7 linked regions of the Homo sapiens genome follow. The protein of the gene in region 4 interacts with the protein of the main gene of each other region in a pairwise test. Each region holds a gene or a part of one and is shown on either strand. Other genes may lie near its edges.

What was found.
Region 1: the proteins of YWHAG (region 4) and CHCHD3 interact in binary tests that used the Homo sapiens proteins (3 or more experiments, as listed by UniProt).
Region 2: the proteins of YWHAG (region 4) and TMT1A interact in binary tests that used the Homo sapiens proteins (3 or more experiments, as listed by UniProt).
Region 3: the proteins of YWHAG (region 4) and NDUFA5 interact in binary tests that used the Homo sapiens proteins (3 or more experiments, as listed by UniProt).
Region 5: the proteins of YWHAG (region 4) and TMEM176B interact in binary tests that used the Homo sapiens proteins (3 or more experiments, as listed by UniProt).
Region 6: the proteins of YWHAG (region 4) and CRTC3 interact in binary tests that used the Homo sapiens proteins (3 or more experiments, as listed by UniProt).
Region 7: the proteins of YWHAG (region 4) and DRD1 interact in binary tests that used the Homo sapiens proteins (3 or more experiments, as listed by UniProt).

What each region holds. Positions count from the first base shown.
Region 1 is NC_000007.14:133,075,591-133,079,090, forward strand, and holds part of CHCHD3 (MICOS complex subunit MIC19), read right to left. Parts: intron 1-3,500. UniProt on the Homo sapiens protein: Component of the MICOS complex, a large protein complex of the mitochondrial inner membrane that plays crucial roles in the maintenance of crista junctions, inner membrane architecture, and formation of contact sites to the outer membrane.
Region 2 is NC_000012.12:50,930,512-50,933,008, reverse strand, and holds the end of TMT1A (thiol S-methyltransferase TMT1A precursor), read right to left. Parts: 3' UTR 501-2,497; downstream 1-500. UniProt on the Homo sapiens protein: Thiol S-methyltransferase that catalyzes the transfer of a methyl group from S-adenosyl-L-methionine to alkyl and phenolic thiol-containing acceptor substrates.
Region 3 is NC_000007.14:123,544,319-123,547,818, forward strand, and holds part of NDUFA5 (NADH dehydrogenase [ubiquinone] 1 alpha subcomplex subunit 5), read right to left. Parts: intron 2,500-3,500; exon of another isoform or gene 2,340-2,499; intron 1,359-2,339; coding exon 1,293-1,358; intron 1-1,292. UniProt on the Homo sapiens protein: Accessory subunit of the mitochondrial membrane respiratory chain NADH dehydrogenase (Complex I), that is believed not to be involved in catalysis. Complex I functions in the transfer of electrons from NADH to the respiratory chain.
Region 4 is NC_000007.14:76,352,492-76,355,991, reverse strand, and holds part of YWHAG (14-3-3 protein gamma), read left to right. Parts: intron 1-3,500. UniProt on the Homo sapiens protein: Adapter protein implicated in the regulation of a large spectrum of both general and specialized signaling pathways. Binds to a large number of partners, usually by recognition of a phosphoserine or phosphothreonine motif.
Region 5 is NC_000007.14:150,790,801-150,794,082, forward strand, and holds the end of TMEM176B (transmembrane protein 176B), read right to left. Parts: intron 3,272-3,282; coding exon 3,161-3,271; intron 2,801-3,160; coding exon 2,744-2,800; intron 2,516-2,743; coding exon 2,288-2,515; intron 1,376-2,287; coding exon 1,256-1,375; intron 824-1,255; coding exon 731-823; 3' UTR 501-730; downstream 1-500. UniProt on the Homo sapiens protein: May play a role in the process of maturation of dendritic cells. Required for the development of cerebellar granule cells.
Region 6 is NC_000015.10:90,536,423-90,539,922, reverse strand, and holds part of CRTC3 (CREB-regulated transcription coactivator 3), read right to left. Parts: intron 1-3,500. UniProt on the Homo sapiens protein: Transcriptional coactivator for CREB1 which activates transcription through both consensus and variant cAMP response element (CRE) sites.
Region 7 is NC_000005.10:175,441,383-175,445,509, reverse strand, and holds the start of DRD1 (D(1A) dopamine receptor), read left to right. Parts: upstream 1-1,327; 5' UTR 1,328-1,811; intron 1,812-1,927; 5' UTR 1,928-2,410; coding exon 2,411-3,751; 3' UTR 3,752-4,127.

The sequences.
Region 1 (3,500 bases), about 57 Mb from region 4:
CTCCTCTGTGAACAGGGGTACTCACTCGTGAAGCAGCTGACAAGCTTTAGAGATGCTGGCCAGGATTATACACGCAATCTGTAGCTGCAGAACAACTCATCTTTCTGATAAAAAATGACCCAAAATGGGGGTCGATAGTACAACACAAGCTTCTGCGATGGCAGCCTCTGTGTAAGAAGTATCTTGCGGTCAGGTGTGGTGGCTCACGCCTATAATCCCAGCACTTTGGGAGGCCAAGGCAGGCAGATCATGAGGTCAGAAGATCAAGGCCATCCTGGCTAACACGGTGAAACCCCATCTCTACTAAAAATATAAAAAATTAGCCAGGTATGGTGGTGGGTGCCTGTAGTCCCAGCTACTTGGGAAGCTGAAGTAGGAAAATCGCTTGAACCCAGAAGGTGGAGGTTGCAATGAGCCGAGATCGCACCACTGCACTCCAGCATGGGCAAGAGAATGAGATTCTATCTCAAAAAAAAAAAAAAAAAAAAAAAAAGTATCTTCTTCAGGAAACATATCTTTTCCTGAACCGGGCACTTGTTTAAGCAAAGCCTTTTCCTGTACAATGACCTATACCTATTATACTTGCTTTCCAGACATCTCTGGAATCTGCATCAAGGCAAATACCAAGGGCAATTTACAGAAATTATTTGTAGCAAAGAATAGTGAAATAATCCCCACACACATTGATACTGGGAATTACACCCTGAGGTCCACAGACTGAGTAGTCCGTGGGTCAATTACTCAACTGTATGCAAAACTGTCTGCTTATTGCATGGTTCTGGCCAGAATCCACAGCTTACAGATCCACAGTGCTCTATGAACTAAAAGAGCCACCATTCTAATATAAGGGGCAATCAAAAGAAGCAGGTCTGCCGATATTCAGCCCACTGAACTTGACTGTCCACCCTATTCTCTATTGCTCCTAAAGACAAATTTAAGCAAACAGAGCTTGCCAAGTTTAAATTTGTGGTACTCACCACACCAATGTGCTCCACAGAGGGGGAAAGGCCATGTGTCATCTCCTACAGTCTTCCCACTCATCTCTTCCTACCCACCTTGTTTGGTCTTATCCAAAATCCGTGCCAGAAACACTACCCACCAATCCAAAAGAAAGAATTTTCTCAGAAACAGGAGACTGGGTGAGTTGGACAAAGAGAAAGTATTTCTACTCCCAGGTAACAGAGTAAAAAAAGAGGAATTCTTCAGTGGCCCTTCTAAGAGGTAAAGTTATGAGCCACATGAGACAAATAAATCAGCCTCCTGCCTCCATTAGTTTATCTTATCTTCTTCCAGATGTGTCCTAGCAAATTGATTCAAGAACTCAGACCCATTTTTTCTCTCTTGATCCTCCTTCCACTTAGCATAGGTCATTTTCTGTGTGAGTATTAGTTTGCTTCACAATTACCTTTTTAAGACATAGGCTCCAAAAACTGCCATTATTATTTGGGAGAAATTACTCCCAAATAGTTAGTTAAGAGAAAGGGGGAGAGGGAACCCATATATATGTTGATAGATATATATGAAATATGTAATGCTTAGCTTATGTCTGTGTTTCTTTACATTTGTCATTAGTAGAAACCATTATCCCTACCTTTATAAAATCCTAGATAACTTAAGATGGTAGCCAAAAACTTCATAGAATCTAAAGCTGAAAGAAACTAATCATCCACTACTTAACTAAATTTGCACAACATTCCTCAACACTCCCAAGGGCTGACCGAATTTGTAGTCTCTGATAACATACTCTCTTCAGAATCCTCAGTAATACCGCATATTAAGTAATCTCTTCATTTACGGTCTCTCAACTGCCAACACTTCCCAAAGCATGAGTTACGTTCCATATTAAGTATCCATACTGCCATAACTGGCTCCTGTGAATTTCAGCTTGCAACTTTAAAGCCCAGCTGCGGACATTCGTTTATGTCTGGAAAGCATGATAAATATATCTTTGAAAATGATACTCATTGAAGTTGACATTTGCTCCAGAAGAGTTCACTCACAGCTTTGATGTTTCAGATAAACTTGCGAAAGATAGAGTTGTAAGCACACTTTCCAAGCAGGCACAGCAGGTGCTCACAAAAATCCTATCAACCACATGTAATATGAGTAATGAAAATGCTTGGTCTTTCCTCTCTAGGAATTTATTTTAGCCTTGAGAAGAGGGCAAGGCAAAAGAGTGACCTCTCATCCAATCCATAAGAGTAGTTTCAGATTCAAAGTTGGAATCAGGTGTAAAAATATAGGTTACTTTTACAGAAGAGGGAAGAAAAGCTATCAGTTGCTAAGGATAAAGGGAAAAAACAAGACCCTACAATACCATGAAAAATAACACCTGGTAGGTGAGAAGAAATTTTAAACTTAAAATTTGAAGTAGGTCCTTTCATTGCTATTAAGGACCTCAACAATATAGAGAAACACAATCTATTAATAAATTCAGCCAGGTGTGGAGGCTCACACCTGTAATCCCAGCACTTTGGGAGGCTGAGGTGGGTAGATCACTTGAGGTCAGGAGTTTGAGACCAGCCTGGCCAACATGGTGAAACCCCCCTCTACTAAACATACAAAAAAGTTAGCAGGGCATGGTGGCACAGGCCTATAATCCTGGCTACTCAGGAGGCTGAAGCAGGAGAATCACTTGAACCTGGGAGGCAGAGGTTGCAGCAAGCTGAGATCATGCCACTGCCCTCCAGCCTGGGTGACAGAGCAAGACTCGTCTCAAATAAATAAATAAATATTCAGCATAGTTACCAAAAGCCTTATGTTGTTCACTAAATGTTATTCTTTATACATTAAGATAAATGATGACTGAGCCTGGTGGAGCGGCACATGCCCGTAGTCCCAGAGGCTGGGGCAGGAGGATAGCTTGAGCCCAGGAGTTGAGACCAGCTTGGGCAACACAGGGAGACTCCAACTCAAAAAAACCTCATAATTGCCAACATATTTATATTAAGGGAATGAACCCAAGTCATTATATGAAAAAAATAAAGGAAGATGAAATTATAGATGCTCCTTGGTTTACAACGGATTTTGCTGAAGGTAATGCCAGAAGCTGAGTTTACTGAACGCTTGTCACTTCCACACCACTGTCAAAAAATCCTAAGTCGAACCATCCTAACAGGAGACCGTCTGTACTATCTTTAACAGTGTAACAGAACACAGAATTAGCTTTCCAGCAGTGACTGCCTCTGTTGAATTAGTAAGCTTGGTAAACTTTCATTTCTTACAACCAATGACATAAATGCTAGACAACTGGTCAAAGTTGGAACGTTTTCTTCAGCCAAGCTGAACTAACCTAACTGCAGTTCAAAACTGAAGTTTGGTGCCTCATCGGCACCATGTTCTAACAAACTAAGCTAAAAACAATGGCTTATGGACATACTGAGAATGCGGTTTCTTATCCTTCCCCATGTCTCAGAAGGGAACAAAGTGACTATTTAAAGCCAAGAAAAATATAAAGAAATAAAAACCATCTACAACAGACCTAGACAAAAAAACACCCT
Region 2 (2,497 bases), on a different chromosome or scaffold from region 4:
TGACATTTCATCATTTCAACCTGTGGCTTTTCCTATTTCTCAATCACTAGACTGACCAATAGTGAGATGGTTGGATTAAGGAGGTTCCAATTCTGGGGAGATGACAGAGGAAGGAGATTCATGTTCCAGAGCTTAGGAAGCAGTAGGTGTGCATTCGACCTCACTGCATCAATAACTTTTCACGTTCAAGAGATAGTTAAAATAGTAAAAGCTTCCTTTCTTTCTGCTCTGTGGATTTCACAAATGGGATCGTTAGACTTGAACTTTTTTGCTTTTTTAAAGTAGCCAAACATGATCACATGATGGACTTGAACTTTTCAAAACCCATTCTGATACTTCTAGGATTGCTTTGTGTAAAATCTATTGGCTGTGTTTATAGTTACCTGGCTGTAGAAAGAAAAATTTACATGTTTAAATAGCTAAAATTTCCACAATGAAGGAATAAGCCTCCCAGAGACATTAAGAAAAAGGAAACCAAGCCAGCAAAGATATAAACCATATTTCTGTTCCTAACACAAATGTGAATTTATTGGTTGATTTGATATTTAAAATAGTACTTTTACAAAATCATCTCAGAAAATATACTACATTTATTAAAATTCCTACAAACCATTGCAGAAAATATTAAACCCTCTAACCAACCTAACACTCGCTTTCAGAGGCACTTGTGATGATTTTCACAGCTTCCATAGTTGCAAAGAACAAAGAAATCATCTTCCAACAGGGGTGGAATTAGATAAGAATAATCCAAAAAATATTTATTTCTTTACAGACTCACAGATTGCTTGATGTTTAGGGGCTCTTACCTAGGATACCTAATTATTCAAGGTTTTCCTAATTTAGTAGACTTTTTCATTGCCTACAATCTACAATATTCAGCAAAGTATTAAGGAAAATGAACCCAAGAACCTTAACCACCTCAAATAGTTTTATGGATATACTAAACTGTCAAGTACAATCTTTATCTTAAGACTTGAGAACTGGAATGCAGGAAAACAAACTTTGGTGGAATACTGGAATAAAAGACATAAAGCTGGGCAGAACTAGGTGTGGCAACCTTGTATGTTAATTCTGAAAGCCAGACCAGTGACGCTAAGAATAACAAATAGATTCAGATTTGTTTTTCAGAAACTTGAGCTATTTCGGCCAGGTGCACTGTCTCACACCTGTAATCCCAACAATTTAGGAGGTCAAGGTGGGAGAATCACTTGAGCCCAGGAGTTCAAGACCGGCCTAGGCAACACAGTGAGACCCTGTCTCCCTGTCTCTACTTCTTTTTTTTTTTTTTTTTTTTTTTGAGACGGAGTCTTGCTCTTGTCACCCAGGCTAGAGTACAATGGCATGATCTCGGTTCACTGCAACCTTCGCCTTCTGGGTTCAAGAGATTCTCCTGCCTCAGCCTTCCAAGTACCTGGGATTACAGGCACCCACCACCACGCCTGGCTAATTTTTTTTTTTTTTTGTATCTTTAGTAGGGTTTTGCCATGTTGGCCAGGCTGGTCTTTAACTCCTACCTCGTGATCCACCCGCCTCGGCCTCCCAAAGTGCTAGGATTACAGGCGTGAGCCACCACGCCCAGCCCCCTGTCTCTTTTTTTAAAACACAATTTAAAAGCAGAAAGAAAAAATCTGTGCTGTTTAGACTCAGATTCTTAATTAGCTAGTATTTCTTAATTCAATCAATAAATTATTAAGACCTTTTCACTGCTCCCTTTTTAAAGTCTTCTTTGGAGTGATTTAAGTGCTTCTTATTACCAAGCTCTCAAAGAGAAGATAAAATTAAAATCTGATGGGTAACCATTTAAATAAGACAACTGGGGTAACCCATTTCTCCAGGACCCCTCTCTGCAACAGAGAGCTATTCTCTTTCTTTGGCCTAGTAAACCTCTGCTCTTAACCTTAAAAAAAAAAAAAAAAAAGCAATTGGAAAAAATTTCAAGTCAATGAATAAAATAAGATTTGGGGATAATGGTAGATGCTAATTATGAAAGTCGACTGTTTCCTTTGAAGGGGGAGTTCAAAGCTGTTTTTTTGATGTGAATTCTTTGGGAGACAATAGAAAATGGCTAAATAGGATATAACAGAAACTTTTAAGGATGGAATTCAACTTTACCTAAAAAAGGTTTCAGGCCAGGCATGGTGGCTGACGTCTGTAATCACAGCACTTTGGGAGGCCGAGGCAGGCAGATCACCTGAGGTCAGGAATTTGAGACCAGACTGACCAACGTGGGGAAACACCATCTCTACTAAAAGTACAAAATTAGCCGGCGTGGTGACGCATGCCTGTAATACCAGCTACTCAGGAGGCTGAGGCAGGTGAATCACTTGAACCCGGGAGGTGGAGGTTGTGGTAAGCTGAGATCACAGCATTGCACTCCAGCCTGGGCAACAAGAGCGAAAACTCCGTCTCAAAACAAAACAAAAAAACCTTAAGCTGGGTGCGGTTGCTCACGCCTGTCATCCCAGCACTTTGGGAGGCTGAGGTGGGTGGATTGCCT
Region 3 (3,500 bases), about 47 Mb from region 4:
AGAAACCCTGTCTCTACTAAAAATACAAAATTAGCTGGATGTGGTGGCACATGCCTGTAATCCTAGCTACTTAGGAGGCTGAGGCAGGAGAATTGCTTGAACCCGGGAGGCGGAGGTTGTGGTGAGCCGAGATCATGCCACTGCACTCCAGCCTGGGCAACAAGAGCAAAACTCCATCTCAAAAAAAAAAAAAAAAAAAAAATTGAAAACCTCTACATATGGGGGAAAAACCCCATTTGAGAGGCAAAAGCAGGCTAGAAAAAGTATGTGCAGACAATGTCAGAAAAGTTTAAGGTTAATATCTTTTATTATAAAAAGACACTCATGTATAAATAACCCAGACTAAATGACCCAGTAAAAATATTAATGACATAATTTATAAAATATAAGAACATATTTTTAAAGTTTAACCTTACTAGCAATTGGAGAAAAAAGATGCAAATCTTAAAAAAAAAAAAAAAAAAAAAAAAAGAGTTATCATTATTTTCCCATAGATGCTTTAAAAAACCAACTACGGAATACTCAAAATAGTATATTTCCAGCCTATTTACATCAGTAACCTATCTATTTCTATAACCTAACTATGACCAAAGGAAAAGAATTAAAATTCAGATTAAATAAAACTAAACTGCGGTGTTTGTTCTCTTGTATAAGCAGCAGGTATAGTGAGAGGAGAAGAAAATTTCCCAATAGAATAATTTAAGATTTAAATATTCTAAATGTAATTAATAATGTTAATAATTTTTCTAATCTCAGTCTCTTCATAATCATGCTTACATTTTACTACTCAATATTATTTGTCAGGGTTAGTATTTGGGAAATAATGTAGAATTAAGCTCTCAAATATACTATGCAATTGTTTTTTAACTTGCTCAAATGCTCAAGAACCAAAAATAAAAATAAAAGTACATTTTAATTTTATAATTCAAAATGTCTGTATTTTTCCCTACTAAAAATATGCCACACTCTTAAAATAAGATACAACTATTAAAACAACAGTAATATTGTGCTACCAATTTAAACTAAGGTTAGGCCAAGGAGAACATGCTAATTAAATTAAAAGAGTGTCAAACTCCAGGCTTCTAACAGAAGTCTCATAAATTCATGCTATAATCAACAATAAATACTATAATCAACATACACATGAGAAGCACCACATTTTCTATATGTGATTAGTCTTACATATTTGACGAGTTGATATAAACAAGGAAATTTAGTTTTCCTTTCATTCTAGAACGTCAGTTGTGTGTCTCTATGAAACCAAACACCTAAATAGTCAACTTTTTCTTTACCTGAAGAATCACCTCTTCTAATTGACCGCCTTGAAGTTGGTCTTCTAATTTTTTAACATCTGGTTCCTATAATTTCAGGGAGAAAAAAAATTAAAGAAGCATACTAACTGAATGTTTCAATATCCTATATATTTTAAAATTCCTATATAAAAACACTTAAAAATACAACTTTTCTTTCATCATACTCTTTTTACTAAATATTTGGTGAAAATTCATTTCACCTCTGCTATTTCATTGCTTTTCTGTCTTAATATTGAAAAGTGCTAAATGTTTATTGACATGCTGATCAAGGGACAGAAATACAATGTCAAATTCAGTCTTCCTAAAACAGATTTTAAAATATGACTTTGCTTTCTTAATATTTCCTGTATTTCCTCTGAGAGCATTAGAATTAGAAATAAATGCTACTCTATGACCCAGAAATTACACTTCTAGGCATAATGCCAAACAGAAATGCATAATATATTTTTTAAAAAACATGTTTGAGAATATTCACAGCAGCACAAATTATAGCCCCAAACTAGAAATAACCCAAATGATCATCTGTAATAGAATGGATCAATTAATTATAATATTTGGATATAATACTTCACAGCAATGAAAATGAATAAACTGTATGCAACAATATAGGTGATTCTCTTAACCACAGTATTAAGCACAAGCCAGAGTACAGTATGTATAAGACAGTACATACTAATGATTTCATTTATATAAAATTCAAAAACAGGCAAAAAGAAGTCCAAATAGAGATTAACTTTACAAGTAGTAAATTGAAGGGGAAGAGGCAAGGGTTTTGTTGTTCTGGAAAAGTCCTTTTTTTCTACACATTTGTAATGTATATAATTATTTAATAGAAGTTTTTAAGAACAAAATGTTAATAAATATAGTACCTAGAACATTCAATGACATTTAGTTATTTTCTAGTAAACTGAGCTTTTTGAGCCAGAAATCATGCTCTGTAAATATACCCACATATGTAAATAAGGCTTTGTCTTTTCAGGGTGTTTTTCTGGCCAATAAATGGAATAAAGAGGGAGAAAATAATACATTTTGCTTTTCAACACAAGACGTGATATGTTACTGCCTCAGGGTATCTTGCTGGATGGCCCAGGGTATCTGCATCACTTGTTTCTTCACCACTTTTCAAATCTTTGCTCAAATAACACCTTCTTATTGATTAACTACTGATAATTTGCATTATGATAGGCTGAAAAATACCACAAAAGATATACATGTATTAATTTCTAGAAACTGTGAGTGTTACTTTATACAGCAAAGACTTCACATATATGATCAAGTTAAGGATGCTGACATGGGGAGATTTTCCTGAATTATCCATATAGTCCCTAACTGCAATTATAAGTGTCCTTATAAGAGAGAGGCAGAGGGATATTACACACAGAAAAGGAAAAGGTAATGTAACCACAAAGGCAGAAATTGCAGTGATGAGACCACAAGCCAATAAATGCCAAAAGCCACCAGAAGCTGAAAGAGGCAAGAACAGATTCTACCCAATATCCTCCAAAGGAAGCACAGCCCTGACAACACCATCTTGATTTGGGTCCCTGATGTTGATTTCCAACTTCTGGCCTCCAGAAGTCTAATAAAATAAACTTACATTGTTTTAAGCCACCAAGTTTGTGGGAATATTACAGCAGCCATACGAAATTAATACATAGTGTAACATCCCCTATCCCCACCATGGCACACATTTTCCTTGTTTTATTTTCCTTCACTGCACTTACTATTTTCTAACACACTATGTACGTCTTTACTCAGTTTTTACTTTTTTTTTTTCTTTTGGTCTCCCATCACTAACATGTAATCTCCAAGAAGGAAAGGATTTTTATCTGTTTTGTGCCAACTAGGCACAAGTTTCCATGCCTAGAACCATACATGGCATTCAATAAATGTTTCTTGGTTAAAGAAGTGAATACATAAAAAACAGCTGAAAGGGGGAGAAAAGGGGAAAAAGTAATAAGCATGTTTAAGACAGATTATTTAACAGGGAATTAACTCATATGAGAGACCAAAAATCAAAAACAAAACAGGGAAGCTGGTCACTGTTATAAGAGACTCAGGAGAGTGAAGGTAAAGAAGGCAAGGAAAGTTCAACGACACTTTCATTTCAGAAAAAGCCTGTGTTAGGTGAACAGTTCAAAATTTGTCTTACCGATAGTGAATAATGTGATTTTTAGTCACCAATGG
Region 4 (3,500 bases):
ATTTTGAAAAGAAGGAAAGAGGAATGTTAGGTCTTTTAAGACAGATGTTTAGTCTTGTATTGAAGGAGAGTGAACACCTAGATGTATCCTACGTATTAGACAATACTGTCTTGTCCTTTGACTTTTACTAGTCTCTTGAGAAGTTAATATTTTAAATAGGCTACTGGTACTTGCCTTGGGGAGAAAAGGTTCAGGGTTACTAATTTTGTTGAAGTTACTGAGTTAAGCAGTTTAACTCAATGAGGGGTGGGAGGGCAAAGGTGGCAAAAGGCTATCATAATTTTTCTAAATATTCCTAGTGGGATCAATAGACTTTCAAATTCTTTCTATCTTAAATATTCCATTCCCCCTCCCCCCCAGGCTCTTCCAGGAGATCAATAGCTATTATCACTAATGGAGTAATGGTACCTCTGTAGACTCTTCAGAGGTGGAGTTCTGCCAACCATTATTCTAAGTCATGTGGCTTGAATTGTTCTCTTCTTGGGCGTGGAAAGAATACAGATCATACAGCTTGCCTTTCATGTGTTAGCCTTCCCAGTAACTGAAGCAGATATTAAGTGCTTTTTCTGATTATTTTGGAAATCTATGTGTTTTTTGAATTCTACTGAGATTCAACATGGCGCTAAATGTTCATCCTCATTGCAGTCCTGGATTAACTGCAAACCTAAGAGTAGGATTTCATCTCTTGTACTCAGGGAAGCCTTATTTATTAAGCCAATCTTTAAATTATTGAAAAGAGTGGAGAAAACGATGTGTTTTTATCGAGGTAAAAGTTGCGTAACATAACTGTCACATAGTCACATCAGATTTCAAGTGCAATTGAGTGGCATTGGGTACATTCCGTGTTGTGCAGCCATCACCTATGTTGAAGAAGAGAGAAAGTGGTTATTTTTAAAAAGTGATGCCGGTCTGGACTACAGCTGGCTGGAATTCAGCACCTATTCAGGAATGTGTCGATAATGGAGTGCCCACAACAGCTCACAGCCAGCGATAATTGTCTATCCCTTTGTCTTCATTTCCAAGCGTCTGAACTGAAAAAAGGGAATTAGCTTTAGCTACGTTTGTACTGTATTTCCACTTAAAAAGTTATGGAACTTGAACACTGTATAATGTTCACCCAAATAAATAAGAACAATTTACTTGAAATCTGAGCAAATCGTTAACTCTTTGGGGATTATGGAAATTTTGCTGGTGTTCTAGTGACTCGTTTTCAGCCCTAAGGCTGGCTTTATTATCAGTGATTTGCCGCCTGTGTGGTAGTGGTTTCCTAATGAGTAGGATGCAGGGTTGAGACTGGGGAGCTCCTGCAGCATGAGGCTCTTAACTGATGGGACGCCAGCACAAGACATTCAGTACATTGTGGCTGTCAGGAGCTGGATGGGAAAAGTAGTTACTTTTCCCTTCTTTGCCCATTCCCAATATCAGCAGTCCTAACCTTATTTTATTTTATTGTATTTTATTTTAATTTTTTTGAGACGGAGTCTTGCTCTGTCACCCAGGCTGGAGTGCAGTGGGCAGTGGTGTGGTATCTCGGCTCACCGCAACCTCTGCCTCCCAGGTTCAAGTGATTCTCCTGCCTCAGCCTCCCAAGTAGCTGGGATTACAGGCACCCACCACCACGCCCAGTGAATTTTTGTAGTTTTGATAGAGACAGGGTTTCACCATGTTGGCCAGGCTGAGCTCGAACTCCTGACTTCAGGTGATCTGCCCACCTCAGCCTCCCAAAGTGCTGGGATTACAGGCGTGAGCCACCGTGCCCAGCCTCAAGGACCACTTTCTATGCTCGGTAGTCAAAGGGAAATACTACTTTTAAATGATATAAAACGTTATCTTCTCTTTGCCTTCTTTTGAAAGTTACTTAGTGTTTTACCAGATATTCCAGTCTATAATTATGTGTGCGTTTGATTGCTTGTTTTTTGTTTTTTTTTTTTTTGAGGCAAGGTCTCACTCTGTCACCCAGGCTGGAGCATGGCTCACTGCAGCCTCCACCTCACAGGCTAAAGCGACCCTCCAGCCCCAGCCACCCAAGTAGTTGGGACTACAGGAGCATGCTACCACACCTGGCTATTTTTTTGTACCGTTTTTTGTAGGAACGGGGTGTTGCCATGTTGTCCAGGCTGGTCTTGAGCTCCTGGACTCAAGCAGTCTGCCCATCTTGGCCTCCCAAAGTACTGGGATTACAGGTGTGAGCCACCACACCCAGCCCGGTCTATAATTATAATGCAGCTAAATGTTGCCTTTCTACAAAGGCTACCAATACCAGCTGCCTTATGGCCTCTCCTCTCAGAATTATTTTTCTGTATCTTCCCCAAATTCCATTTTAGGTGTCAGCTATCATTTTGATTAACTACCAAAACATATTATTTTACTTAAAATTGTCATTTGTAGAAATCTTGAAAATTTTGATATTTTGCTAAATGAATTTATGAATTTGAGTGGTAGAAAATTAGTTACACGAAAACTGATTTAAAAAATTCCCTGGGTCAGGCACGGTGGCTCACGCCTGTAATCCCAGCACTTTGGGAGGCTGAGGCAGGTGGACCATGAGGTCAGGAGTTGGAGACCAGCCTGACCAACATGGTGAAACTTGTCTCTACTAAAAATACAAAAAATTAGCTGGGCATGGTGGCATGCACCTGTAATCCTAGCTACTTGGGAGGCTGAGGCCGGAGAATTACTTGAACCTGGGAGGTGGAGGTTGCAGGGAGTTGAGATTGCACCACTGCACTCCAGCCTGGGTGACAGAGCAAGACTCCATCTTGAAAAAAAGAAAAAAAATTCCCAAAAGAAAGCTTTAATTTTAAGGTAAATAGTTATAAATAATTGGTTTGCTACCATGATTTTGTAGAAAAAATAAAAATTGTAAATCTTAAAAGACCATGTGCATGAGTCTTTTCTTTCTGTTTAAAGAACTGGTGAAGTCTTAGTTAAATTGCTCCCAGCATTTCACTTGTTAAGTGTGTGTCCTACAGAAATAGACTTTTCTTTACCTGAGTTGAATACTACTAATATGTGCTGCATGGCATTAAGTTTTGGTTATGGGCCGGATGTAGTGGCTCACGCCTGTAATCCCAGCACTTTGGGAGGTCGAGGTGGGTTGATCACTTGAGGTCAGGAGTTCAAGACCAGCCTGCTCAACATGGTGAAATCCCATCTGTACTAAAAATAACAAAAATTAGCTGGGCATGGTGGCGCATGCCTGTAATCCCAGCTACTAGAGAGGCTGAGGTAGGAGAATCACTTGAACCCAAGAGGCAGAGGTTGCAGTGAGCTGAGGTCATACCACTGCACTCCAGCCTGGGTGACAGTGTGAGACTCTGTCTCTAAAAAAAAAAAAAAGTTTTGGTTGTGAATAGGAAAGAGAGTGTTCTTACATAATTTAGATTTTTAACATAACATTAAAACAATAAAATTATTCCAAATAAACTCTTGGGCTTCTTAACCTTTGGAAGGGTACCTGTCTTTGGAGAGAGAAAGCCCATTTTGGTGAGTGGGACCCA
Region 5 (3,282 bases), about 74 Mb from region 4:
TGTTATATCTTCATATATAAAGAAAATGGAAAAAGTCAAAATCAGTTTGCTATCATTTACAATGAAAGGAAGGAAGACTAAGGATGTGTTTATGTGTGTGTGGAGACAGGAAAAGAGACAGAACCAACACTAATTACTGCAAAACGAAAAAAGAGAAAGGAAGGAAGACAGGGAGGGAGGGGGCAAAAATCTCATTCCATGCTCCACACAGTTCTCTTAAGTCTACAGGCCGAGGTTGTAGGAGCCTAGACAATCTCAGCAGGTAAGAAGATTCTAGGCCCACTAGACTTACACTTTACACTGAATTGAAGAAAATCATAAAAAGGGGTTTTGCCACCTGGATGTACAGCAGAACATAATTAAATTTAATCTTCTTGGGACAGTGTTTTAATGGGATAAATCAGCTCCCATTTAACCTCATACATAGCGACACAAAGAAAGGCCTTTCATGGCGCACGAGGTGTATAAACAAAGGGAAACCATATCTTTCTGGGCAAAACTGCTTTTCTGGATTGTTTATTATGTTTAATCAGCATTGTGGAAAATGCAACAATATCTGTTCATGGACTTGAGAACCCCAGAGTGGGAACAGCAGGTGCGGATGTGGGGAGAAGAAAGGAGGAGGGTCTGGAGAGCGGCCATAGGGGAGGCAAGTGTGAGGAGCCAGGAGTGGGGGCCCTGGGCTGCCCTAGACAGGGACATGCGGGCACCCCGTGGGGTCTTTGGCAGCTCACAGGACAATGGCAGTGGAGGTCTGCTCCCTAGAGGGCGAAGGGGGCACTGAATTCTCCCCCAGTAGCCTCTTCTCTGATCCTTCCTCATTCTGGAAAAAAAAGAAAAAAGAAATCCTTAGGGGAAAAGGATGCAGGCAGAGTTAGTATCATAGAACTCAGAAAGCAGAAAGAGGAAAGGAGGAGGGAAAGGAAAAGGTGACAGGAAAAGCAGATCAGGCAAAAAAAAAACAAGGTGGCAGAGGAAGGGGAGTCAGACGAACACCTGGGACAGGGCAGAGGGGAGAGTGGGGAGATCAGAGCAGAGGAGGGCGCAGAGAGGCACAGGGCGGCGACAGTTGGCCCAGGACCATGGTGATGGCCACATTCCCCAGACAGCAAAGGGGAGAGCTGCATATGGAAAGAAGCTGAGGGGCACCAGGCCCAGCCTCAGGTTCGGGTGCCCCTGGCCCCGCACTCCTACCTGTCCCACACACTCACCACCCAGACTCACGCTGCCCAGAGGCCCCTCCCCGACAACTCACCAGGGGCTGGGAGCTCTGGCCACACAAGTTTCGAAGACCTACTCCCAAGGAAACCAAGGACACAATGACCTTCAAGACACAGACAGCCAGGAACAGGGCACGGATTGCTGTGAACAACTTCTGGAGATAAGGGAAGAACAAAGATAGTCAGGTGTCAGCTACTCCAATGCTGCCCACATCACCACCCTCTCCACCCACCCAGGCACTGACTCTATCCAGCTTGCTGCTCCCACCACAGCTGACTGTGTTTCCAGCCACAGCTTCCATCCCGTTGGCTTGTCTGCAGAGTGAACTTATCACTCCCTGTCAAGAAGTGGAGACTATTCCTTCAACCCGTAGAATCTGGAAGGGCCTAGAACTGCTTTGGCCACAGTGAAAGTGACACTATACAGTGACAGGGAAGCCCTTAGCTGGTCTGGCAGCTTCTACTTTCTGTCTCCTGAAATGCTTGCAACTAGGGTACTCCCCATTGGAATCCAGTTTCTGTGCTATGAGAAGCCCAAGCCAAGTGGAGAAGCCATTGCCGGCTCTTGCTGACAGCCCCCGCTGAGCTCCGGACCATGCAACTACATCATCTCAGACCTCCAGCCTCGGCGAGCACTTGGATAACTTCACCCCCATCTGACTGTAACTGCATGAGAAAACCCGTGAGTGAGAATGGCTCATCTGAATCCAGCCAACTCACAGCACCGTGAGAAATAATAAGTTGTCATTTTAAGCCACTACATTTTGGTGTGGTTTTTAATTCAGTAATGGAAAACTGTGATACCAACACACCAGAAAAGCCAGAAGGGTGACCCACTATCTCCTCTCTGAAATGTCTCCTCTTTGTTCCTCACCCTCCTTGATTCAGAGAATCTTCGTGTCATGAGGTCTGAAAAATGTCTGTAGCTTACATTAAAACCTCCTGAATGAAAGACCCAGCATGAAGTCCAAGCTCAAAGAGCCTACATCTCTGTCCTCCAGGGCCCCCAGCTCCCTGGGAAAAAAGAGCTGTGATGGGTCCCCGAAGACTGGACTCTTCCTGCTCACCCTCAGCATCTGCATGTAAGCTCTACACTCCTCCTTCTGCCATTGGTTCTCTTGACTTCGCCGCATCCATCTGTACCCAGTGGTAGGGAAGACAGGGTCTGAGCGATCACACACAGTGTCGATGTATAAAAAGGGTTCAGTTTGCCAGATGAAGCTATTCACGCAGAGGACAACAGCAGCCATAGCTGTAGCAAAGCCTGCCAGGGTGAGCAGGCTGGATATATAGCCCTGGAAGAGAAAGAGGGTCATGACACACGCTCCTTCAATCGGTGGAAGAGTCATGAGGTCCCCGCCTCAAATCCCTCTCCTCTTCCCCAGCCCTTGTCCAGGAAACCCTCTCCTCCCCTCCAAGAAAGACCCCAAGATATTGACAACCAAAGGGCAGAAGACAGATAATGGAGCAGAATTCAGGAGGGGGTCAGTGAACAAGGTGGAGAGAGGGTGTCCAAGACTCACAGCAAGTTTGCCCGGGTGCTTCTCATGGACAATGGCCCCAGCTCCTGCTGCGATCACCTGAAAAGAGACACCAGAAAAAGGCCTCCAGTTTACTCTTCTGAATTGGTCTATCATCACCCTCCCACCAGCAGTTCCCAGAATAGCCAATGTGAAGCAGGATCCCAGGGACAGACAAAGAACTCTGACACACAGACCAGGATTCCACCTATACCTGCCCCACCCCTCCCATCTGTCTTCAAGAGAAAAATGGAAGTGACAGGGTTTTAGCTACACCCCAGAGCAGCCTCCTCATGGCCAAAGGCCATTTGGCTCCAGAGACTTTGGTCGCTTCCCCAAAGCCCCAACCAAGATCCATAAGCGCCTTCTTGCCCATCACCACTTGCCTCCCTCCAGGCTCACAGCCTGTTCCTTACTCACCACAGACCCCGCCCAGAAGGCACAGCCTGAGGCACTCAGCACAGTCCAGGGCCCCAAGCTGAGACACACTCCAAGAACACAACTCACAACCCCCAGCAATATCTGAGTCACCTGCAAGACAG
Region 6 (3,500 bases), on a different chromosome or scaffold from region 4:
TCTCGACGTAAGTGATCACACCCTCAAGGTTTCCGGTGCTTTCTGGGTTTTGATTACTCTATTTTCGGAAAGAGCTTACCCATGTTCCAAATGTCCCATATACCATGATAGTAACGTCCTCTTGCAAGGTCTTTGAGTGTGTATGTTTGGATACACTGGCATAATCTTTAACAACAATAAAAGAATTTCTGAAAGAAAAACTAAGCTACTATCCACAACCCTAACACATTAGCTGTTTTCCCTTCTTCATGCTCTTTTCCAGCCTCCGTTTACATTTATGGTAAGAACTGCATAGCTGTGATCATAAGATAGGTACAACCTAGCATGCTCATCATAAGCCTTTTCTATGCTATTACAGAGTAATTTTTAGTGGGTATATAACAGTTCTTCTGAATTATTTCCTTAGAACACCTTCCAAAGGGTGATTACTAAATCTCTGGATATGGGCCTTTTGGTGGCTCTCAACGTATACTGCCGAAATGCTTTCCCAAAGAGTTTATAATATACATATGAGAAAAGTTTCACCAAAAAAACTCATTGATATTGGATATTACCATTAATTGGGGTAAGGAAGGAGGTCAATTCAATAGGTATAAAATGGCATCCCACCATTTTAATATGCTTTTCTTTGTAAGTTCTTCCTTACTTCATTTTTCAAAAAGCAATAAACTGGTTACAGTTCTTGTAAATCTCAAAGTGGTCTGATCTGGTCTTTAAGAGTTCTGTTTCTAAAATAATAAATTAGCTCCATGGTTACATAACCCTTGGCACTATAATTCATATAGAGAAGAAAGGGTTATAGACGAGAGCCCTGGGGCAGATTTTTACCCTTCATCACTCTCTGTCTCTAACAATAATAAAACACTACCAGATCTAAGCCCCTAGGATGGGCCAGGTGCTGTTCTCGGACACTTGGCCCACTTCATCCCTAATCCTCCCCACAACCATGCAAATGAGACTGTACTCTCCTGCTGTTACAGACCTGGAGACCCAGACTCGGAAGTTCAGTGACTTGCCACGTGGCTAGCAGGAGGCTGAGCCACGGCTGTCAGCCTCAAAGCCCATATGCCCATTTCTGCCATGCTCTTTTCCTTTGTCCCATCTTTCCCTCGATGATCATACTAATTACAAACTCAAAAAAAAAAAAAAGGTGAAGTTTGGTTTACCAAAAGCATTGTTGAACCTATGAAGCTCTCTGATAATTTCCTTTTTACATTTATTATGAAAGATTTCAAATAGTATATGTGAAATAAAGACAAGTATAATGAAACCCCATCTATCCATCTTCTAGCTTAAAAATTACCAACTTATATACAATCATCTTTCATCTTTACCCTCTCCACTACCCGCAGTGCCTCACTGACAGAAATTTCAGACATGGTATCACTCCATATTTCAATATGTATTCTCAAAAGATAAAGACTTATACTTGTTTGGAAATTTTAAAGGCATACGAAATCCTTCAGTGGCTTTAACTTCCCTTATACCTGCTGTATTTGATTTCTTAAATGTACTGCACAGGGAGACAGTTATAACCTATTAATCAAAACCCAAATCTCAGAGTCAAACATGAGGAGGACGACATGGTGTTTTTTCCATCTAGGAGTGGAGTTATAGGAATAAAGTCTCTCAGCTTTCAATCTTAACATTCTAAAAGTACTTATCAGAAGCATCTGACTATTCTTGAAATTCTCTGGACAAAATTCTCAGCCATCTTGATTTAAAGCCTTTGATTTCTTTTTTGAAGGATCAATTTATCCATTGATTTACTGATACAAAAACTTAACTGTGTGTCAGGTAGTATGCCAGGCACTGGCTTACTAAGATGAATGTATGCTAAAGTTCCTGCCTTCAGAGAGTTCTCACAAAGGCTTCAACTCTTACCCAAAAGCCTTGACACTTCAACCAAACTAAGTTATAAATCCAGATAGGGACCTGCCCTCAACTGAGCTGAAGGCCGTCTCACAATCCCCCATAACTGCTCTCCCTCCCAAAGCACCTATTTCCGAAGCCTTCAAAGACTGTTAAAAAAGAACACGGCTAGCCTGGCCAACACGGTGAAACCCCGTCTCTACTAACTATTAGCCAGCTGTGGTGGTGCATGCCTGCAATCCTAGCTACTTGGGAGGATGAAGCAGAAGAATTGCTTGAACCCAGGAAGCAGAGGTTGCAGTGAGCCAAGATCATGCCACTGTACTACAGCCTGGGTGACACAGTGAGACTCTGTCTCAAAAAAAAGGCCAGGAGCAGTGGCTCATACCTGTAAATCCCAGAACTTTGGGAGGCCGAGGCGGGCGGATCACGAGGTCAGGAGATCGAGACCATCCTGGCTAAGACGGTGAAACCCTGTCTCTACTAAAAGTACAAAAAAATTAGCCAGGCATGGTGGTGGGCGCCTGCAGTCCCAACTACTCAGGAGGCTGAAGCAGGAGAATGGCATGAACCCGGGAGGCGGAGCTTGCCGTGAGCCGAGATGGCGCCATTGCACTCCAGCCTGGGCGACAGAGCGAGACTCTAAAAAAACAAAAAGCACTGGACCTGGAATCGGATGATGTGACTTTGTAACCTGCAACTCCCGTGTGGTTGGGCAAACAACTCTGACGCCTCCTGCACAAGATAAAGTGAGGATTAAATGACACAGACACAAGAGTGGTATGTCAAATGTAAAGCTCTGGTCAACTTAAGATATTATCATTATTGCTGATCTCAGCTACCTCTTCAAACTCTGAGTTATTTTGACATTTTCCTCTTTTGAAATTTAGACTCATTGAGCTAGAAAAAGAACTTTGAGACTGTCTTCAACACCTTCATGTTTACAGATGATGAACATGTGAACCAAAGAATGATTAGCCTAAGGCCGAGGTCACAGACTGGCAGCCCATAGGCCACATTTCACCTAGAGTGTTCTGTTTACCCACCAGATGTTGACCCATTCAGTGTATTAAATTTCAATTGAAAAAATCAGGACACTGCATAAAAATATGGATTTCCAACTTCTCCTGATTGAAAGATCAGACAACACTGAACCCATGTTCTTGCATGGCATCGCTGGATGAAGCTGAGAAGAGGCCACCCCCTTAGATCGTGTTTGCCAAGTCCTCACTGTACCCTATTATCCCTTCACGATGGCCCAGGATCAGCTGCCATGATCATCTCATTCCTGGCCCCTCCATTCATTTTCCTTACCTGCCTCACTTACTGAGTTAGTGACCTTTGGCCTACAGTCACACATCTTAGTGGAATTTTCTTTAATGCCTACAGGAAATGAGATCCAGGCCTCATTAATTCCTTTTTGAGAAAAGTCTCACAATAGCCAACACGATTACAATCCAAAATCCCAGCGGGTCCTTTCAGAGACATTGACAAGATAATTCTAAAATTTATGGATGTGCAAATGACCTAGAATAGTCAGAGCAATTTTTTTTTTTTTTTGAGACAGGGTCTCTGTTGCCCAGGCTGGAGTGCAGTGTCACAATCACAGCTCACTGCAACCTCCACCT
Region 7 (4,127 bases), on a different chromosome or scaffold from region 4:
TCTCACCTGTGAGCTTGCCTGGGGCAACCAGGGGAGGCTGGGGGCTCCTTCTCCACCAGGCCCCGCTGCCTCCATATGACTCTTCCCTGTATTTTAGCCCTGTAGGTAATTTTCCAGTTTGTGGGCTCCTGTACCACATGCGGTGAGTTAAAAGAACAGGTGGGCAGCGGCGCGGCTCCCGCGTGAGCTGTGTGACTTTGAGCAGGCCCCACTACCTTTCCGAGCCGCATTTCCACCTGGGCGAAGCGGGTTGAGCCGGCCTGGCGGGGAAAGATTCTTTTAACGGGGGAACAACGTAAGGCGTGCACCGGGGAACACGGATGCTGCTGAGTCAATGCCCGCTCTGCCGTTCTCTTTGAGAGTAAGGCTTGCGTCTCGCCTGCTCTAGCGCCCCAGGTTTGAACGCAGTGGGCGCGCAGGAGGAAACATAGATTCACGAATGCAATGCCAGCAAAGTAAAATTTTTCACCCTTGTCCGTTTTTCAGGGTGTTTCAAGCGGAGGAGTCCTGAGTGGAGAAGATTCCGCTTCCCTGTTTTCAGGTTCTGGCAGTCATGGACCGGGAAGAGCGAGTCGGGGCGCGGGTCCCTGGCGGTCGCTGGAACCCTTGTGAGTGAGGTTGGTGCCCGCGAGGGCACAGCGGGCGCTCGGGAAGTCGCAGCCGCCGGCAGAGGGCGCCCCGGGCACACGGAGCGCGCGGCGCTGGGGTTGGGGCGCTCGGGAGGTGCGGGGCACCGGCTGGAGTCCGGCGTTGACCGCAGCCGGGACGCGCCCGCCACCTGGGCGGGGAAGGAGTGAGTCCCCTCGGGGCGCAGCGGCGCGCGCTGGCCCGGATCCCAGCTGCGCCGCGCCCTCCCTGCGAGCGGTGAGTACAGGCGCCCACGGGCATCTCCAACCCTAGTTAGGGGACACTTGGAGACAACGCAGGTCGGACGTCCGCCGGCCGTTCTAGGAGTTGGTGTGCGGGGAATGGGGGGTGCTCCCGCTCGCTTAGGGCTTTGGGTCCGGCTAGGGGTTGACCCCAAGAGGCGCTGGATGTCGGGGCTGAGCTTTGCTTTCAGGGGACTCAAGCTTACTTGAGGTTCTGACATTGGATTTGCCTCGCGGGCCCTGCGCGTGCTGCGCGGGGATCCGGAGACTGGCGAGGTAACCAGGGAGGGCAAGCACTCACCGGGGCGTCCTCCGCCCACCTCGCCCGCAGAACCATCCAGGGGGACCACGTGCGGCTGTCGCCCGCAACTCTGCCTGTCAAGCGAGGACCGCCCCCAGGGCAGGGGAGGGGACGCGCGGGCGGGGTGGGCTGTGCCCCGCGGGAACCCCGCCGGCCTGTGCGCTTGCTGGTGCCAGCTCGGCTCGCTGCCTCGCATTGCCACAGGCTCCTGAGAGGTCGCGGGCAGTGCCTGCGGGGAGGCGCGGGGCCCTGCTCTGTAGGGCTGAAGGCCGCCCGAGGTTCGCCAAGGCTCTGGGCTCTCGAAAGGAAGCCAAGAAAAGAAGCTGCCCAGGTGACCAGTCCTGGGAGTGCTCTCTCCCAAGGAAGCTCCGAGCGCCCAGGAGCCCTTAGCCGGGGTCTAGTGCCCTTTGAACAATCTCCAGCTCTTCAAGGAAGTGGGCTGCCGCCGCCTCTCTTGGGACCTGGCCTGGGATCCTTTCCCCAAACGCACCCCGGCGATTTTTGCGCACCGGGAGCCGAACCCCTGCTGCGCGCAGCTGGCTGGGCTCAGGCGCGCTTCCTCAACGTTTCGGAGCCGCTGCCCCCAGCGAAGTCCACATTCCAAGCTCCAGGGGCTTTGAGAGAGACGACCCCAAGGCAAGGTAGGTGGCTCGGACGGGCTCGCCCTGGGAATTATTAGGTTGGGCTTGACGTGAGTAATGATGCCATCTGCTTAAGTCTTGGAGAAAGACCGTGTGTTTTCCTTTTGCTTTTTAAGGCGTTTGGAGAGCTGCTGAGGAGCCAGGGGCTTGGAGGAGCGAGAAGACATGTATTTTCAGCTGAGTCTCAGAAGGGGAGAATCTCCTGTCACCACCAGAAAAGCAACAGCCCCGAAATGTGATTGCAACTGACTAGCAGAGCAGAGGCCCAGGAGTCACTGGATTGATGATTTAGAATATGCTAAAAAGCCAGTGCTTTATTTGGGGAATTCAGGGGCTTTCTGGTGCCCAAGACAGTGACCTGCAGCAAGGGAGTCAGAAGACAGATGTAGAAATCAAGAGTGACCATCCACGGGATTGACTTGGATTGCCACTCAAGCGGTCCTCTCATGGAATGTTGGTGAGGCCCTCTGCCAGGGAAGCAATCTGGCTGTGCAAAGTGCTGCCTGGTGGGGAGGACTCCTGGAAATCTGACTGACCCCTATTCCCTGCTTGGGAACTTGAGGGGTGTCAGAGCCCCTGATGTGCTTTCTCTTAGGAAGATGAGGACTCTGAACACCTCTGCCATGGACGGGACTGGGCTGGTGGTGGAGAGGGACTTCTCTGTTCGTATCCTCACTGCCTGTTTCCTGTCGCTGCTCATCCTGTCCACGCTCCTGGGGAACACGCTGGTCTGTGCTGCCGTTATCAGGTTCCGACACCTGCGGTCCAAGGTGACCAACTTCTTTGTCATCTCCTTGGCTGTGTCAGATCTCTTGGTGGCCGTCCTGGTCATGCCCTGGAAGGCAGTGGCTGAGATTGCTGGCTTCTGGCCCTTTGGGTCCTTCTGTAACATCTGGGTGGCCTTTGACATCATGTGCTCCACTGCATCCATCCTCAACCTCTGTGTGATCAGCGTGGACAGGTATTGGGCTATCTCCAGCCCTTTCCGGTATGAGAGAAAGATGACCCCCAAGGCAGCCTTCATCCTGATCAGTGTGGCATGGACCTTGTCTGTACTCATCTCCTTCATCCCAGTGCAGCTCAGCTGGCACAAGGCAAAACCCACAAGCCCCTCTGATGGAAATGCCACTTCCCTGGCTGAGACCATAGACAACTGTGACTCCAGCCTCAGCAGGACATATGCCATCTCATCCTCTGTAATAAGCTTTTACATCCCTGTGGCCATCATGATTGTCACCTACACCAGGATCTACAGGATTGCTCAGAAACAAATACGGCGCATTGCGGCCTTGGAGAGGGCAGCAGTCCACGCCAAGAATTGCCAGACCACCACAGGTAATGGAAAGCCTGTCGAATGTTCTCAACCGGAAAGTTCTTTTAAGATGTCCTTCAAAAGAGAAACTAAAGTCCTGAAGACTCTGTCGGTGATCATGGGTGTGTTTGTGTGCTGTTGGCTACCTTTCTTCATCTTGAACTGCATTTTGCCCTTCTGTGGGTCTGGGGAGACGCAGCCCTTCTGCATTGATTCCAACACCTTTGACGTGTTTGTGTGGTTTGGGTGGGCTAATTCATCCTTGAACCCCATCATTTATGCCTTTAATGCTGATTTTCGGAAGGCATTTTCAACCCTCTTAGGATGCTACAGACTTTGCCCTGCGACGAATAATGCCATAGAGACGGTGAGTATCAATAACAATGGGGCCGCGATGTTTTCCAGCCATCATGAGCCACGAGGCTCCATCTCCAAGGAGTGCAATCTGGTTTACCTGATCCCACATGCTGTGGGCTCCTCTGAGGACCTGAAAAAGGAGGAGGCAGCTGGCATCGCCAGACCCTTGGAGAAGCTGTCCCCAGCCCTATCAGTCATATTGGACTATGACACTGACGTCTCTCTGGAGAAGATCCAACCCATCACACAAAACGGTCAGCACCCAACCTGAACTCGCAGATGAATCCTGCCACACATGCTCATCCCAAAAGCTAGAGGAGATTGCTCTGGGGCTTGCTATTAAGAAACTAAGGTACGGTGAGACTCTGAGGTGTCAGGAGAGCCCTCTGCTGCTTTCCAACACACAATTAACTCCGTTTCCAAATACATTCCAGTGTATTTTCTGTGTTGTTCATAGTCAATCAAACAGGGACACTACAAACATGGGGAGCCATAAGGGACATGTCTTTGGCTTCAGAATTGTTTTTAGAAATTTATTCTTATCTTAGGATTTACCAAATAGGGCAAAGAATCAACAGTGAACAGCTTCACTTAAAATCAAATTTTTCTGGGAAGAAAATGAGATGGGTTGAGTTTGCTGTATACAA